Regions from separate parts of the Homo sapiens genome. Here region 1 is linked to region 2. Evidence: fine-mapped expression QTL. Tissue or cell type: whole blood. Region 2 holds a variant in brackets; the other region holds the start of a gene. All regions are shown on one strand. Distances are between the middles of the regions.

The links. PIP is the estimated chance that this variant, and not a neighbour inherited with it, causes the effect.
Region 1: DTNB starts here. The variant in region 2 is fine-mapped to the expression of DTNB in whole blood (TOPMed, PIP 0.91).

The regions. Positions count from the first base shown.
Region 1 is chr2:25,668,582-25,676,685 of GRCh38, reverse strand. It overlaps DTNB (dystrobrevin beta), which reads left to right and starts at 3,109. Exons shown (of 21, transcript NM_021907.5): 1 at 3,109-3,300. RefSeq lists an enhancer at 714-923 and silencers at 3,072-3,366, 2,731-3,660.
Region 2 is chr2:25,529,516-25,537,619 of GRCh38, reverse strand. It overlaps DTNB (dystrobrevin beta), which reads left to right. Exons shown (of 21, transcript NM_021907.5): 9 at 6,023-6,147. Among named protein-coding and RNA genes, the nearest start is that of DTNB-AS1, 110 kb to the right of the region's middle. RefSeq lists an enhancer at 1,677-2,506. The variant C/T (reference allele first, on the strand shown) is at 3,966.

The DNA of each region.
Region 1 (8,104 bases), 140 kb before region 2:
TAAATTTTTGAAAGCTTTCTCTAATCTGCAGCATGGAAGATGGATTGGAAGCAGCAAGACTGGCAGGGAGACCACATAAAAAGCTGCTGCATGGCCAGGCGCAGTGGCTCACGCCTGTAATCCCAGTACTTTGGGAGGCCAAGGCAGGTGGGGATCACTTGAGGCCAGGAGTTTGAGACCAGGCTGGTCCACATGGTGAAACCCCGTCTCTAACTAAAAATATAAAAATTAGCCAGGCATGATGATGGGCATCTGTAATCCCAGCTACTCAGGAGGCTGAGGCAGGAGAATCGCGTGAACCTGGGAGGCGGAGGTTGCAGTGAGCCAAGATCGTGCCACTGCACTCCAGCCTGGGTGACAGAGCGAGACTCCGTCCCAGAACAAACAAACAAAGCTGCTGCATTAGTTTAGGGGAGGTGGGCTAAGAGGGAAAGATTCTAGTTATTTATTTATGAGGAAGCATCAATGGGACTTAGTGGTTGTTGGGTATGGAGTCAGGGCAGAGGGGTGGTGGGAGAAGAAGGAATCAAGAATGGCCCCCCAGTTTCTGAATTGGTCAACTGGGTGGACAGTAGTTTAGACATGTAGAACGTGGGGTACCTCTAGGACACCCAGGTGGAGAAGTCTGGCGGGCTTTTGTGAATAAGGAACCCAGATGAGTGGCCTGAGCTAGAGAGAGTGCACTTGGGAGTTGCTGATATGCGGTAGATAAAGAAGCGGAGTGGATGGAATGGTCCAGGGAGAATGTGTGGCGTGAGACCAGCTGAGGAGAGAATCTGTGAAACTGAGAAGTGGTCACAGGGGTTAAGACAGGAGTCATGCCATGACACCAAGGGAGTTTCAGAAAGAGTGGGCTACTCTGTTCAATGTCACTGAGAGTTCTAACAATATGAGGACTCAGAGATGGCTTGTGGTATTTAGGATCCAACAAGCCATTCATGACTGAGAGCAATGCAGTGATGTGGTGTGGACAGAAACTACATAGGTTTGAGGAGCTGAGGAGCTGCTGAGGAGGTAGAGATGAGGGTAGATGACTTTCAAGATATTTATGAAGGAAAACTCAGAGAGGGACTAGTAACTGAAGCAGAATCTAGAGGGACAGCGAAAGGGTTTCTTCCTTTTTCTTGAGGACAGGAAAAGCTTAAACATGAATAGATGATGAAGGAAAGAGACAAGTAAAGAGAAGTTGGTAATTTTGGAGTGAGAGGGGGAGAATGATTGAAAGGTGTTTGAAAAGTTTTCTGAGGATGTGGGAGGTGAAGAAATAGAGAACAGAGATGGAGAGATGCCAATACAGTGTCCTTGAAGTATTTAATTCCCTTATGGTTTAGGATTGTCTAGTCCACATATTGAAATTACCTTGGTTTCAATCAATAAACCGAACATATCAAGCGATATTTACACATTTATTTTATATTATTTACACATCTTTTCTCCAAAGAACAGAATCAATGTTTTACCCCTCTCAATGCCTTCCACATAGGGGGTGCTCAAAAAGGGCAAATAAAGAAGCTAGAGGTCTCTTACCTGTATTCTGAGTATCTTAATATGTACAAAACATAGCCAAGACCGTGCCTACAAGAGATAAGTCTCCTCAAGCATGAAAATATTCACACACTTCATATATGTAAGGTAAAAGGTAAAATGTCCATCTTTATTTATTTATTTTGAGACGGAGTCTCACTCTCTTGCCCAGACTTGGAGTACAGTGGTGCGATCTCGACTCACTGCAACCTCTGCCTCCTAGGTTCAGGCGATTCTCCTGCCTCAGCCTCCCAAGTAGCTGGGATTACGGCGTACACCACCACGCCCGGCTAATTTTTGTATTTTTAGTAGAGACAGAGTTTCGCCATGTTGGCCAGGCTGGTCTCGAACCCCTGACCTCAAGTGATCCGTCTGCCTCAGCCTCCCAAAGTGCTGGGATTACAGGCGTGAGCCTCCGCGGCAGGCCAGAAAATGCTCATCTTTTGAGGAACCTATTTGTTCCCATTTAACAAAGTTGGTTATCAGCATTTCCTTCACCATAGGAGTTTAAAAATAAAAAGAGGAGAGGAGGAGGAAGAGGGTGTTCTAAAGGCAGGCAGGCAGGCAGGCAGGCAGCAGCAGGAGGTGGCACGATCTGCCTTACCGTAAGGTGCCAAAAAGCAGTGAAAACCATACTCCCAGCATGCAGGCCTGGGGTCGCTTAGCTCTGGAGCTTACAGCCTTCATCATTGACCAATAGCCCCCAAAGGACGTTGCTGTTTTGAGTCTTAAGTAACGTTGAGAATGACCATTTGAACCATTCAAAAAGTCCTTGCTATATTCTAATTTGGCACCATCTCCTGTATTTCACAGTTTGGAAAGAATTCTATAAAAGATGGATAACAGTAAAACACAAAAAAGCTGGTGCTGAGATGGTAAACCTGGCTGCCCCGGCTCCTTTGCCCAAACTGTTTTCCCAGCCCTAATGTCCTCCCTTTTTCCTCCTAGGACTTCTTTTTCTTCCTTCGAGGTTGACCATAAATGCCGCCTCTAGCCCTCTGCGGCGTCCAAGCAGAAGTCGTCTCTAGCTTCTGTGCCAGCATCGCACCGTGGCTTGGCTCTGCACGGGTCATCGGACTTGGTTGTGTACATGGCTGTTTTCCCCGCTAAGTTTGGGGCGCCTCGAGCCCAGGCGCCGTGACCGTGATCGTGCGCCCACAGGCACCTGGTGCAGCGCGGGGCGCACGCCGCGGCTGGGCTAGCTTGCGGAGTTCACGGGGGTCACTCGGGCACAGGCTTGTGACCCAGGCGCGGAGAATGATTCACGGGGTGGCTCTTTGCATTCTTTGTCGGGTAGTCACGTCGGGCCGGGCACCCCGCCGACGGATACCTGCGGATGGAAAGACACCCGGCCCGACGCCAGCGAGCGGGAGAAGCCTGGATGGAGCCAGCTTCCCGCCTGCCCGGAACCCGCCGGCGACCGGTGGGCGGGGCGCGGCCGCGGGGGCGGGGTGGAGGGGGGTTGCTCGGCCGCTCCCGCCCCCTCCCCGCGCGCGGAAGCCACGCCCCCGGCCGCGCGCTCGCGCTGGGCGCGCGCCCGCCCATCCGCCCTCCGCCCTCCGCCCTCGCGCCCTCGCGCCGGGGGCGGGCGCTGCGCGTGCCGGGCGGAGAAGCGGCGCGAGCCGGGCGCTGCGAACGTTCGCCGCGGGGGTGGCTCCGGGGCCTGAGTAGGCGCTGCCGCTGCCTCAGCCGAGGGGGCTGGGCCGGAGCGTGCGGAGGAGTGAGGCCGCAGGAGACCTTCCCGACGACCCCTGCTCCGGCGGGGAAGTGAGCAAGGTGGGGGTCTGCGGCCGCCGCCGGGGCTGTGGGGAGACGAGCTGGGCTGGAGCCTCGCGCCCGCGAGGTGCGGGACGGCAGCTCGCGCTGCGCCGGGACTGGGGACCCGGGAGCCTGCGGGTGCGGCGCTGCAGGAGTCGGGGAGGGCGCGGGGAGCCGGGGCCGCTGCACCGCGCGCGGCTGCGAGGTGGGACGGCGCGGCTAGCCCCGGAGGGACAGGCAGAGGGGATGCGGCGGATCCCGGGCCGGGAGGGGTATCGGGGTCCGGAACGCGCCGGGGCACGGGCGCGAGCGGGGGCCCGGCGCCGGGCTGATGCTGCCCGAGCCCGGCTCGCCTGGAGGCGGCTCTGCGTTAGGTGCTGAAGGGGCGAGTGAGGCAGGTCCTGGCAGAGGGCAGGTGAGGCGGGCAGGCCCTGGCAGAGGGAAGGGTATTTATTTCAGATCACCCCAAATCACTGTTTCCCGAGGCGCCTAATAGCGAACCTGTCCAGGAGGTCACCCTGGACAGGAAAGAAGTGTCCCGAGACGAGGATGCCGGTGACGAATACTTGCCCTTAAATTCCTGTGCCAGGCCTTGGGATTAGGAAGACCTTCCAGCTACCGTAGGTAGAGACCCGTAGTCAGCACTGGGGCCACGAAATAGTATGGAACACCGTCATGTTATTGAGGTGCTGACAGTGTGGCTGTGAAGATATGCACATGAAATACAAAGGAGCGTCGAATTTTATGTCGCATGCCCTATTTACTTTCGGTCTCTTTTGTCTTTTCCCAGTATTGGGAAATTGGAGCCATAAATTGCGTGGTTTTGGGGATAAAGCAGAAAGGTCAAAAGAAGCCTATGGGAGAAATTTGGGAGAGTTTTGAAGGCTCCTACGGGTAACATTTAAAGGGGGCTCTTAGATGGGGAAAAAAGACGTTTGGAAAGAAAGGAAGTTTCCTTCCTTCCCATCTAGAAATAAGCTCCATGACTATTGACTGCTAAATCTTCAGAATGTTGCCTGGCTCACAGCGGTTGAGCCATAAGTGTCTATTGCATGAATGAATGGACAAGCAAGGTTTGGCCACATTTGCCATGGAGCAGTGTCAGTCACTCTAGTGTTAGGGAAGGTTGCTGGATTTCTCCTGTTCCACAAGTTCTCTCTCTCTGCCTCTTTTTTTTTTTTTTTTTTTTTTTTTTTTTTTGCTATGCGAGGCAACCCCGGTTCTGAGGTCTGGGCACGTTAAAGCAATGGCTAAGGCGGCGAGGTCTTGGTTTCTGTGGCCATGCTACCACTTTCCCATGTGTCTTTCATGTTGGCCTTCAAGAGCTTGCTCCTTGGCCTGTTGCTTGAGATCATCCCATTTTGTTCCTTCTCCCATTGGCTTTTTCTATTACTTGAGAAGGAAGAGGGTAGTGTTGTCTAGAGAACACTTTTTCATTTTGGTCCTGGTTCTTGGGTCTTAGACCTGTAGTGCGAGGCTGTTGGTGCCTCTGCTTTTCTGTAAGGGCTGGAATTCTACCTGTGCTCTGCCTTGGTTGAATCTCTGAACTCTGGAGCTCCAGGCTGCTGTTTCAGTAACCTGGGTTGCAGTGCCTGTTGGGTTACTTTGTCTGCCAAATTAAAACTTGACCTTTTATGAGTTCTCTAAGGATTTTTATCATGCATAAGTGGAATTGCCTTTGAAAGGGGTTGTGCAGTCAAGGTAGTGCTGGCAGAGTTTTTGGATGTCCACTATGCCCGAGAGACAAATTTCTACCTATGGTTAGAAAATTAGACTCAGAACCAAGAGAATTTCAACTTATTGTTTATTTTATGTCTTTATGTTACTCTCTCAGGGCCTTAGTTTCTTCGTGTGAAAAATAAGTAATAATCAAAATCTGGCATTGTATAGGAAGCCTTGAAGAAGTAAATTTATTTCTCCTGTTTCAGGGCTGTACAGCCAGCAGGTCTCTTGTTGAGAGGTGCCTAGGTTCTACAATATTGGGTGCCTTATTCCAGGCTCTCTCAATGATATTTTGTTTATGTATTTATTTTAAAACCAACTTTTTGACGTATAGTTGACAAAATAAAATGCACAGATTTCCCGTGTGCGGTTGGATGAGTTTTGGAAAAATGTGTACAGTAGTCCCCCCATTAGCCTCAGGGATATGTTCCAAGAGCACCAGTGGATGCCTGAAGCCACAGTTAATTCCAAACCCTATATAGACTGTTTTTTCCCTATACTTAAGTATCTATGATAAAGTTTTAACTTATAAATTAGTTGCCATGAGAGATTAATGACTTCTCTTAGGCATATGTTTGGCTTCTCTGTGGCATATCCCAATTGCCAGCATCACTACTCTTGCACTTTATTATTAAGTAAAACAGTGGTCACTTGAACACAAGCACTGTGATACCATGACAGTCAATCTGATCATTGAGACAGCTACTAAGTGAGTAACCAGAAGGTGGCTTATGCAGTGTGGATATGCTGGAGAAAGGGATAGTTCATATCCCAGGTGGGACAGAGTGGGATGGCACAAAATTTCGTCACGCTATTCAGAATGGTACACAACTTAAAACTTACAAATTGTTTATTTCTGAGGGGAGACTGCTGTATACTTTGTAACCACCATTCCAATCAAGAAATTTCCATCACCCCAGAATGTTCCCTTATGCTGGTTTGCAGTCCATTCTCTATCTTCCCTACTCCCTTTTATTGATTTCGAATTACACGAGCATCAGAGCTGTGGCACCTAGTTGTGTAGATTGTATTCTGCCCAGCTTTAGGGAGCACCATTCACATTGGAGTCCTTGTGCCTGGCAGCTGCTGGAGTTGTGTAGTGCACACTCTGTGTGACTGTGTGCTGCAACTCTGCAGGTGGCTCAGAACACACACTCACTTGTCAGATACTCAAACAGTACAGACAGAATAAAGGCCCCCTTGACCTACTCACGGAAACAAGTTATCAGTTTTTGTGGTCTTTCCAGACTATTCTCTATGTATTTTCATGTATATATAGGGAACACAAACTCATCTGATACTCAAAACAGTATAGACAGAATAAAGGCCCCCTTGACCTACTCACAGAAACAGAAGTTATCAGTTTTTGTGGTCTTTCCAGGCTATTCTCTATGTATTTTCATGTATATATAGGTAATACAGAATAAAAAAAGAGCAGAGTTTTTTCTCCTCTGCATTAATGACATCATACCATACACATTGTTCTGCAGTTTTTTCCCCTAACAGAATGATTTTGAGATTTTTTCATGTTGGAACACAGGAATCAACCTGAGTCTTCTTAACTACTACACAATCTCTTATGTAGTATGTATCGTAGTTTATTTAGTATTCTCATTAAGGACCGTTGCTGCAGTGAATGAAAAACTACAGTTGCTGGGTCAGAGGTATGCGTTTTACTTCATAACTGATGGGGCTATAACCATGTTGCTGCTTGTGGATTTAATCCATTTATTTTCAACTGCTTAGTGTATTCAGTTGTAGGCTTTTTTTTTTTTTTGAGATAGGGTCTTCCTCTGTCGCCCAGACTGGAGTGCAGTGGCACTCCAGGGCTCAAGTGATTCTCCCAAGTAGCTGGGACTACACTTGCGTGCCACCATTTAAAATTTTTTGTAGAGATGCAGTCTCGCCATGTTGCTCAGGCTGGCAAGTGATCCTCCCAAAGCGTTGGGATTACAGGCATGAGCCCCTGCACCTGGCCCGGTTGTGGACTTACATCACAGCGCACGTGTCCTTTTACTCACTGAGGAACAGTTGGGTTCCTTTAGATGCTGATTCTTCAGTGGGTCTGTGTGTTGCAAATGCATCCTGCCAGCCCTAGGCTTTTCTTTCCCTTTGTTAACAATGTATTTGGTTGTATATACCATTTAAGTTTAATGTCATATTTATGAAAAATTTCCCTTAAATGGCTTGTCTTTTTTTGGGTGTGTATCTGGTTTAAGAAAATTTTCTGTCTCTCATGGTGTTAATGATATATTCTTAGAGTTTCTTCCAAAAGTTTAAAAAAGTTTTGCTTTCCAGATGGAATTTATTTCTATGTATGGTATAATGAAAAGATACAATTTTTTTTTCAATTTGGATGACCAGTTTTTCAGCACTCTAACTTTTTTTATTATAGTAAAATACACATAACATAAAAATAACAATTTTAACCATTGTAAGTGTACAGTTCTGTAGCATGAAATACATTCACATTGTTGCACAGCCATCACCACTGTCTCCAGAGCTTTTTCATCATCCCCAACTGAAACTCTGTACCCCTTAAACACCAGCTCCCCATTCTTCCCTCAGCGCCTGGCAACCACCATTCTACTTTCTGTCTCTATGAATTCGACTACTCTAGGTACCTCATATGAATGGAATCATTACAATATTTGCCCTTTTGTATCTGGCTGATTTCACTTAGTATAATGTCCTTAAAGTTCATTCATATTGTAGCATGTGTGAAAATTTCCTTTTTAAGGCTGAATAATATTCCATGGTATGAATATACCACATTTTGTTTATTCATTCATTGATGGACATTTGGGTTGTTTCCCCGTTTTGGCCATTACAAGGAGTGCTGCTATGAACATTGGTATCTGTATGTCTGTTTAAGTCTCTGTTTCCATTTCTTTTGTGTATGTACTCAAGTGCAATTGTCAGTAATACAGTTTTTAAAACAATATACATAATGGAATAAAAATAGATTAACACAATTTTGACCAATGTGGCTGAATAGTATGGAGTTTCCATATACCCACTCTTTCCCATATGGTTTCTCCTATTATTAACATCTTGCATTAGTATGCTACATTTATTATAATTGATAAACTAATATTGA
Region 2 (8,104 bases):
GGAAATCCCTTATTCATGTGTTTAGACAACCTAATTGGATACATAGTTTTAAAATTTTTAGGGTAATCTCTTTTTTGGTTTCTCCTAGGCCTTAGTTAATACTCTAATTACATGTCTTTATTTCAGTCTTTTTTCCTTCCCATACATACCAAGCTGCCCTTGATGTGCCTTAATTATTTGGAATTCATCTTGATGTATTGATTTTACCTTTCTATTTCATGGCTATTATTTTTAGGATGGAGCTAAAGTAGTCTGTGTGATAATGCATTTCACATACATTGCATGAATTAATGGCAGATATAGCAAAAAATCATGAAATTAATACATGGATGACAGATGCAGTGTTTCATTATAAAGGTAAAAGTAAGGTGTTCTCTTTGATGTCCTCTGATTGCATCTACTTGTAATCCTCAAAAAAAAAAAGATTTATATGGTTTTACTAGGTAGGTAAAAGCAATCTGGAAAATTCATCTAGGTAAATAATTTGTTCAAATACAAAGATGAATAAGATGTAGATCCTACCCCTCAGAAGCAGCAGTATAACAGAGATGGACAAACAAATTAAAAATTGCAGTATGGGGCCAGGCACGGTGGCTCATGCCTGTAATCCCAGCACTTTGGGAGGCTGAGGCAGGTGGTTCACGAGGTCAGGAGATTGAGACCATCCTGGCCAACCAGGTGAAACCCCGTATCTACTAAAAATACAAAAATTAGCCAGGCATGGTGGCACGCGCCTGTAGTCCCAGCAACTCAGGAGGCTGAGGCAGGAGAATTGCTTGAACCCGGGAGGCGCTGGTTGCAGTGAGCCGAGATCACCCCACTGCACTCCAGCCTGGTGACAGATAAATAAATAAAAGCTCTCCCTCTCCCCTCTCCCGTCTCCCATCTCCCCTCTCGCTCTCGCTCTCTGTCTCCCTCTTTCTACCGTCTCCCTCTCTTGCGGAGCCTGGACTGTACTGCCATGATCTCGGCTCGCTGCAACCTCCCTGCCTCGGGCTCCGGTGATTCTCTTGCCTCGGCCTGCTGAGTGCCTGGGATTCCAGGCACACGCCGCCACTCCTTAGGGGTTTTTGTGTTTTTGGTGGAGACGGGGTTTCGCCGTGTTGACCGGGCTGGTCTCCAGCTCCTGGCCTCGGGTGATCTGCCCGCCTCGGCCTCCCGAGGTGCTGGGATTGCAGACGGAGTTTCACTCACTCATTGCTCAATGTTGCCCAGGCTGGAGTGCAGTGGCGTGATCTCGGCTCGCTACAACCTCCACCTCCCAGCTGCCTGCCTTGGCCTCCCAAGGTGCTAAGATTACAGCCTCTGCCCGCCCGCCACCCCGTGTAGGAAGTGAGCAGCATCTCTGCCTGGCCGCCCATTGTCTGGGATGTGAGGAGCCCCTCTGCCCGGCCGCCCCGTCTGGGAGGTGAGGAGTGCCTCTGCCCGGCCGCCACCCCATCTAGGAAGTGAGGAGCATCTCTGCGTGGCCGCCCATCGTCTGGGATGTGAGGAGTGCCTCTGCCCGGCCGCCCCGTCTGGGAAGTGAGGAGCGCCTCGGCCCAGCCGCCCCGTCTGGGAGGAAGTGGGGAGCACCTCTGCCCGGCTGCCCCGAATGGGAGGTGAGGAGCGCCTCTGCCTGGCCGCCCCCTCTGGGAGGTGAGGAGCGCCTCTGCCCGGCTGCCCCATCTGGGAGGAAGTGAGAAGCGCCTCTGCCTGGCTGTCCCGAATGGGAGGTGAGGAGCACCTCTGCCTGGCCGCCCCCTCTGGGAGGTGAGGAGCGCCTCTGCCCGGCCGCCCCGTTTGGGAGGAAGTGAGGAGCACCTCTGCCCGGCTGCCCTGAATGGGAAGTGAGGAGTGCCTCTGCCTGGCCACCCCCGTCTGGGAAGTGAGGAGCGCCTCTGCCCGGCAGCCACCCCGTCTAGGAAGTGAGGAGCGCCTCTGCCTGGCCGCCCATTGTCTGGGATGTGAGGAGCCCCTCTGCCCGGCCGCCCTGTCTGGGAGGTGAGGAGCGCCTCTGCCCAGCTGCCACCCCGTCTAGGAAGTGAGGAGCATCTCTGCGTGGCCGCCCATCGTCTGGGATGTGAGGAGCGCCTCTGCCCGGCCGCCCCGTCTGGGAAGTGAAGAGCGCCTCTGCCCAGCAACCCTGTCTGGGAGGAAGTGGGGAGCGCCTCTGCCTGGCTGCCCCGAATGGGAGGTGAGGAGCGCCTCTGCCTGGCCGCCCCCTCTGGGAGGTGAGGAGCACCTCTGCGCGGCCTCCCCGTCTGGGAGGAAGTGAGGAGCGCCTCTGCCCGGCTGCCCCGAATGGGAGGTGAGGAGCACCTCTGCCTGGCCACCCCCGTCTGGGAAGTGAGGAGCGCCTCTGCCTGGCTGCCACTCCGTCTAGGAAGTGAGGAGCGTCTCTGCCTGGCCACCCATAGTCTGGGATGTGAGGAGTGCCTCTGCCCGGCTGCCCCGTCTGGGAGGAAGTGAGGAGTACCTCTGCCCGGTTGCCCCGAATGGGAAGTGAGGAGCACCTCTGCCCGGCTGCCCCGTCTGGGAAGTGAGGAGCACCTCTGCACGGCCACCCCGTCTGGGAGGTGAGGAGCGCCTCTGCCCGGCCGCTCTTCGTCTGGGAGGTGAGGAGCGCCTCTGCCCGGCCGCTCTTCGTCTGGGAGGTGAGGAGCACCTCATTGTCTGGGCGGTAAGGAGCGCCTCTGCCCACCCGCTCTTCATCTGGGAGGTGGGGAGTGCCTCTGCCCGGCCGCCCCGTCTGGGAAGTGAGGAGCGCCTCTGCCCAGCCGCCCCATCTGGGAAGTGGAGGGCACCTCTGCCCGGCCGCTCTTCGTCTGGGAGGTGGGGAGTACCTCTGCCCGGCCACCCTGTCTGGGAGGTGAGGAGCGCCTCTGCCCGGCCGCCCATCGTCTGGAATGTGAGGAACGCCTCTGCCCACCCGCCACCCTGTCTGGGAGGTGAGGAGTGCCTCTGTCCGGCCGCCACCCCGTCTGGGAGGTGAGGAGCACCTCTGCCCGGCCGCCCCGACTGGGAAGTGAGGAGTGCCTCTGCCCAGCCGCCCCGTCTGGGAAGTGAAGGAGCGCCTCTGCCAGGCCGCCCCATCTGGGAAGTGTACCCAGCAGCTCCGAAGAGACAGCGACCACTGAGAACAGGCCATGACGACGATGGCGGTTTTGTCGAAAAGAAAAGGGGGAAATGTGGGGAAAAGAAACAGAAATCAGATTGTTACTGTGTCTGTGTAGAAAGAGATAGACATAGGAGACTCCATTTTGTTCTGTACTAAGAAAAATTCTTCTGCCTTGGGATGCGTTAATCTATAACCTTACCCCCAACCCCCTGCTCTCTGAAACATGTGCTGTGTCCACTCAGGGTTAAATGGATTAAGGGCGGTGCAAGATGTGCTTTGTTAAACAGATGCTTGAAGGCAGCATGCTCCTTAAGAGTCATCACCACTCCCTAATCTCAAGTACCCAGGGACACAAACAGGGCCGAAGGCCAAAGGCCGCAGGGACCTCTGCCTAGGAAAACCAGAGACCTTTGTTCTCGTGTTTATCTGCTGACCTCTCCACTATTATCCTATGACCCTGCCACATCCCCCTCTCTGAGAAACACCCAAGAATGATCAATAAATACTTAAAAAAAAATTAAAAAAAAAATAAACGCTGCATTTCCAAAAAATAAATAAATAAATAAATAAATAAATAAAAATAAAAATAAAAATTGCAGTGTAGCAGCAGTATAGCATGGTGAGTGCAACAGTGGAAACAGGTACAGGTAAATGGGTAGCCTGGAAAGGCACTTGCTGTCGTATGGAGCAGTGAGGAAAGTCTTCACAGAGGAAAGGATGCTGACCAGCAGGCTTGAGAGATGAGAAAAAAATGTACAGAAAGATAGATTGGGAAAGGGAGACCTGGGAAAGGCACATGCCAAGATACAGAGACCTAAAAGAACACAGTGTATTTTGAGTCAACTGTGAGCAGCTTATCACTTAA[C/T]GTGAGTGGGAAGTAGAAAGAGAGAGAGGCAGGAGTCAGGTGTGAAAGCTTTTGTATGGAAAATGAAGGCATTTATTTAGATCTCATTCTGTAAGTGACTATCAGCCTTTGATGGATGTTAAGCAGAAGAGTGACATGATCTCTGGGGGCAGTGCAGAAACGGTTTTAATAGGGGAAGAATCAGCGTCACATCACGACTTGTTGGGCAAAAGGAAAATGGAAAGAAGTTAGGGGAGAAGTTGAGAATTTCTATGTTTCGTTTTATATACTTTCAGGAAATTAGGTTACATCTAGACTTTTCCCAGAATGTTTTTCTTTTCTTTTCTTTGAGATGGGGTCTCACTCTGTCGCCCAGGGTGGGGTGTAGTTGGCACAATCTCAGCTCACTGCAGCCTCGTCGGCCCGGGCTGAAGCGATCCTCCCACCTCAGCTTCCCGAGTCACTGGGATTATAGGCACATGCCACCGCACCAGCTAATTTTTTTGATACTTTTTGTAGAGACCGGGTTTCGCCACGTTGCTTAGGCTGATCTCAAACTCCTGGGCTCAAGAGATGCACCCGCCTCTGCCTCCCAAAGTGCTGGGATTATAGGAGTGTGCCACTGTGCCTGACCAAGTTTTCCCAGAATTTAGTATGTTGACGGGAATAGTAGAAGGTGATTTGGAGCCAATATACGAAGTTTCTGAAGAAATTGTATTATTTAGTCTTTATTATAAAGTATTCATTAACTGTGCCTATATGGTCTTTCAGGCAAACAGATTTTTACTTTGTGTTAAAATACTACAACAAGCAGCATATAGAAGTCTATTGGGGACGTGGCATTGATGAGGCAGACAGCTGCAGCCATGTTTTATTTTCCAATTAAAGTGGCACATATGATAATAAACTGCAGAGGCAGCAGAATGAAATATTTAAACTTTTTTACAGTTAATATCCTGCCAAGAAAATCTCAGATAACAGTGTTATTTTAGGGGAATTGGGTGGACGGTATAATCTGTATAAAAGGAGCCTCCTTTAAATATGAGTTTTAGAAGTGAATGTTCTGTGTAACCTAATTGTGGCATGTTGCTTACTTTTGTGCTTATTTATGATTAAATCTTAGACTTGGTAGTCTTTGGTGGATATTATTCTACCTTCCAGAAGAATGTATTGGTATGCCAACTTATTTTTGTAATATAGAGTCCTGGGTCTGGTGCTGCCTGTGTATTGTGAATGTACTCTGTATCTGTATCTGACTGCATAACCAGACCCCTAATATCAAATGTTCTGCCTCATGTTTATTTGGGAATATCCTAACATCTTGGGGATGTGACTTACTTAGCTAATTTGCTAACATCCATAAGCTGTGTGCTCTTAGCCTTTTAGTATCGTAGCCCATCAAAAAGTTCTTTTTTTTTTTTTTTTTTTTTGAGACAGAGTTTTGCTCTTGTTGCCTAGGCTGAAGTGCAATGGCGTGATCTTGGCTCACTGCAACCTCCGCCTCCCAGGTTCAAGCAATTCTTCTGCCTCAGTTCCCATGTAGCACGGATTACAGGCATGCACCACCATGCCTGGTTAATTTTGTATTTTTAGTAGAGACATGGTTTCAACATGTTGGTTGGGCTAGTCTCAAACTCCCAACCTCAGGTGATCCACCTACCTTGGCCTTCCAAAGAGCTGGGATTATAGGTATGAGCCACCGTGCCTGGCCTCCATCAAAAAGTTCCGACTCTGATCAGGAAATTAATGTTAACATCTTAGCAAAAAGGATCCAGAAGCATCAAAGGAGGGAGTTCTTGCCAAGAGTACATAGAGATGTCCAGAAGGAAAGTTGACATTACTTGATAGTGTGACTTTATAGTAAACATGAGGGAGGAACTGCAGAAATGAAGGACCACAGATGACCTTGGAACAACTGGAGGTTCCTTTCTGAAAGGCCCAATGATATTGATGTAATGAAACTTGATTTGTATTTGAAAAGATGTTTTTACACTCTTGTCACAAAGTTTTTTTCTTTTTTGAAGTTCCTTTCATTCTTTTGAAGGGTTAATTCCTTACTATTTTCTGCTTTGACACAGAAATCTCCTGCAAAGAAGCTGAGCCATGCAATTAGTAAATCTTTGGGGTGTGTACCCACGAGAGAACCCCCGCATCCTGTTTTTCCTGAGCAACCAGAGAAACCACTTGACCTTGCACATATAGTGTAAGTATACCCCTGGATGTGCATGTGGATCACACTGAAATGGGGGCCTTGTGAAATTCCTGTGGATCAAAACCAGGGATCACTTAACATGACCATTCAACTTCTCAGGTTTTTACTTTCTTTTGTGGGAACTTAAGACTTCAAGCTTTCTTCTCTGTAAATCACCGTTAAGTGTCCACATGGAAATCTAGCTCCTGATTGCTGAAGCCTGAGTAATATGGCAGCCTCCAGAAACATGAGCCCATTGAAGAGCCATTATTGTTCTGGTTTTAGCTGGGCTGCCTTTTGTGATTTTGGGTTCATTCCTTAAATCAGTGGCAGAGATCTTTTTCTCTATAGCAGTAATGCCCATAGGGACTTAAATTAATGTAGACAACATGGAAATGAAAATCAACTTAATTTGCTGTTTTTTGTATTGAGGGAAAATTAGGAAACATAAGACTATATTCTACAAATAAAACTGGTATTTTGTATGTATTTATTTATATGTATTTAGTTGAATATTCATGCTAGTAAAGCAAAGCTAGAGGAGAACAATAAAGTTGAGAAATAGAGAAAGAACAAAGTAGGGAGGAAGAGAAACAGTGAAGGGTAAGATTCAGCCTGTAAACTGCTTTCTTCACTCTGAATTAAATGATGATACTATGCTTCCCTGATGAATAAATTTGGTAGAGTTTTGGATCACGAATCTTTATCAGGTGTCAGAAGTTTTTCTGTTGGAGTGGGCATTCATTTTCTTTCACCTCCCTGATGGAAGGTAGTTTGACTAAATGAGCTCTAGAGAATCTTGATCTTTTTTCCTTTTTTCTTTCAATTATTTAGATACCTGTTTATATTTATTAAAATAATCCATGCATGTGAATTACAAATTCATTCATCCATAAGAGCTTATAATGAATGCAACATACCCTCCCACACTTCGCTGTCCTTTGGGTTTTAAATCTACTAATAGTTATCTCTGTATTTCTAAATAATATGTTTGGAGCACCATTTCTTGACTTATCAGTTTTAGACATTATTATCATTATTATTTTTTGAGACAGGGTCTCGCTTTGTCACCTAGTCTGGAGTGCAGTGGTGTGATCTCGGCTCACTGCAGCCTCCACCTCCCAGGTTCAAGTGATCCTCCCACTTCAGCCTCACAAGTAGCTGGGACTATAGGTGCAGGCCACCATGCTCAGCTAATTTTTTTTAATTTTTAGTAGAGACGGTGTTTTGCCATGTTGCCTAGGTTGGTCTTGAACTCTGGGTTCAAGTGATCCACCTGCCTCAGCCTCCCAAAGTGCTGCGATTACAGGCATGAGCCACTGCGCCCAGCCAGTTTTAGACATTATTGACTTACTTTTGTGGTGTAATGAATCAGCCTCATCTCTAACTCTACATACCAACCCATCCCTGTTTTTCATAATTATATCACCATTTTTAAGTTGGTTACCTTTTTAATTTTAAATAATATTTTAAAAACTCTATTTCTTAATAACTTCTTTTTGACTTCCACTTTGTAAACAGAAAATTAGCACCTTCTGTCTACTTTTCCTTTGCCTCCTAACGTCTGCCATCTGTGCCCTTATTTTTATGTTGTCAAAGCTGAGAATGTTTCTATTCTCTTCGATAACCATAACTAAGTCTTCTGAGATTGATCAAGGGTTAAATCTAATAAAGCCAAATAATGGCATTTACAGTTAGTATCCTTCATTACACAGTCACATAGTGTGCTGCAATTCTGTGGATCCTTTTGTGCAGTTACTGTCTCATTGGAGTTCACTGGGCTCTTCTTTCTTACCTACCATTGATTACCGAAAATCATTCCTATTGAATTTTTAACTGGATTGATTTTCTTGTACAGTTGTTGTTTTTCCTGCGGTTTCTCATTGCTTTCTTCTTCTTGGGAAAAAAGATGTCTCCCACCCCTACACAGTGTTCCATAGCACAGTTTATCTGTTCCCCATAATGCAAT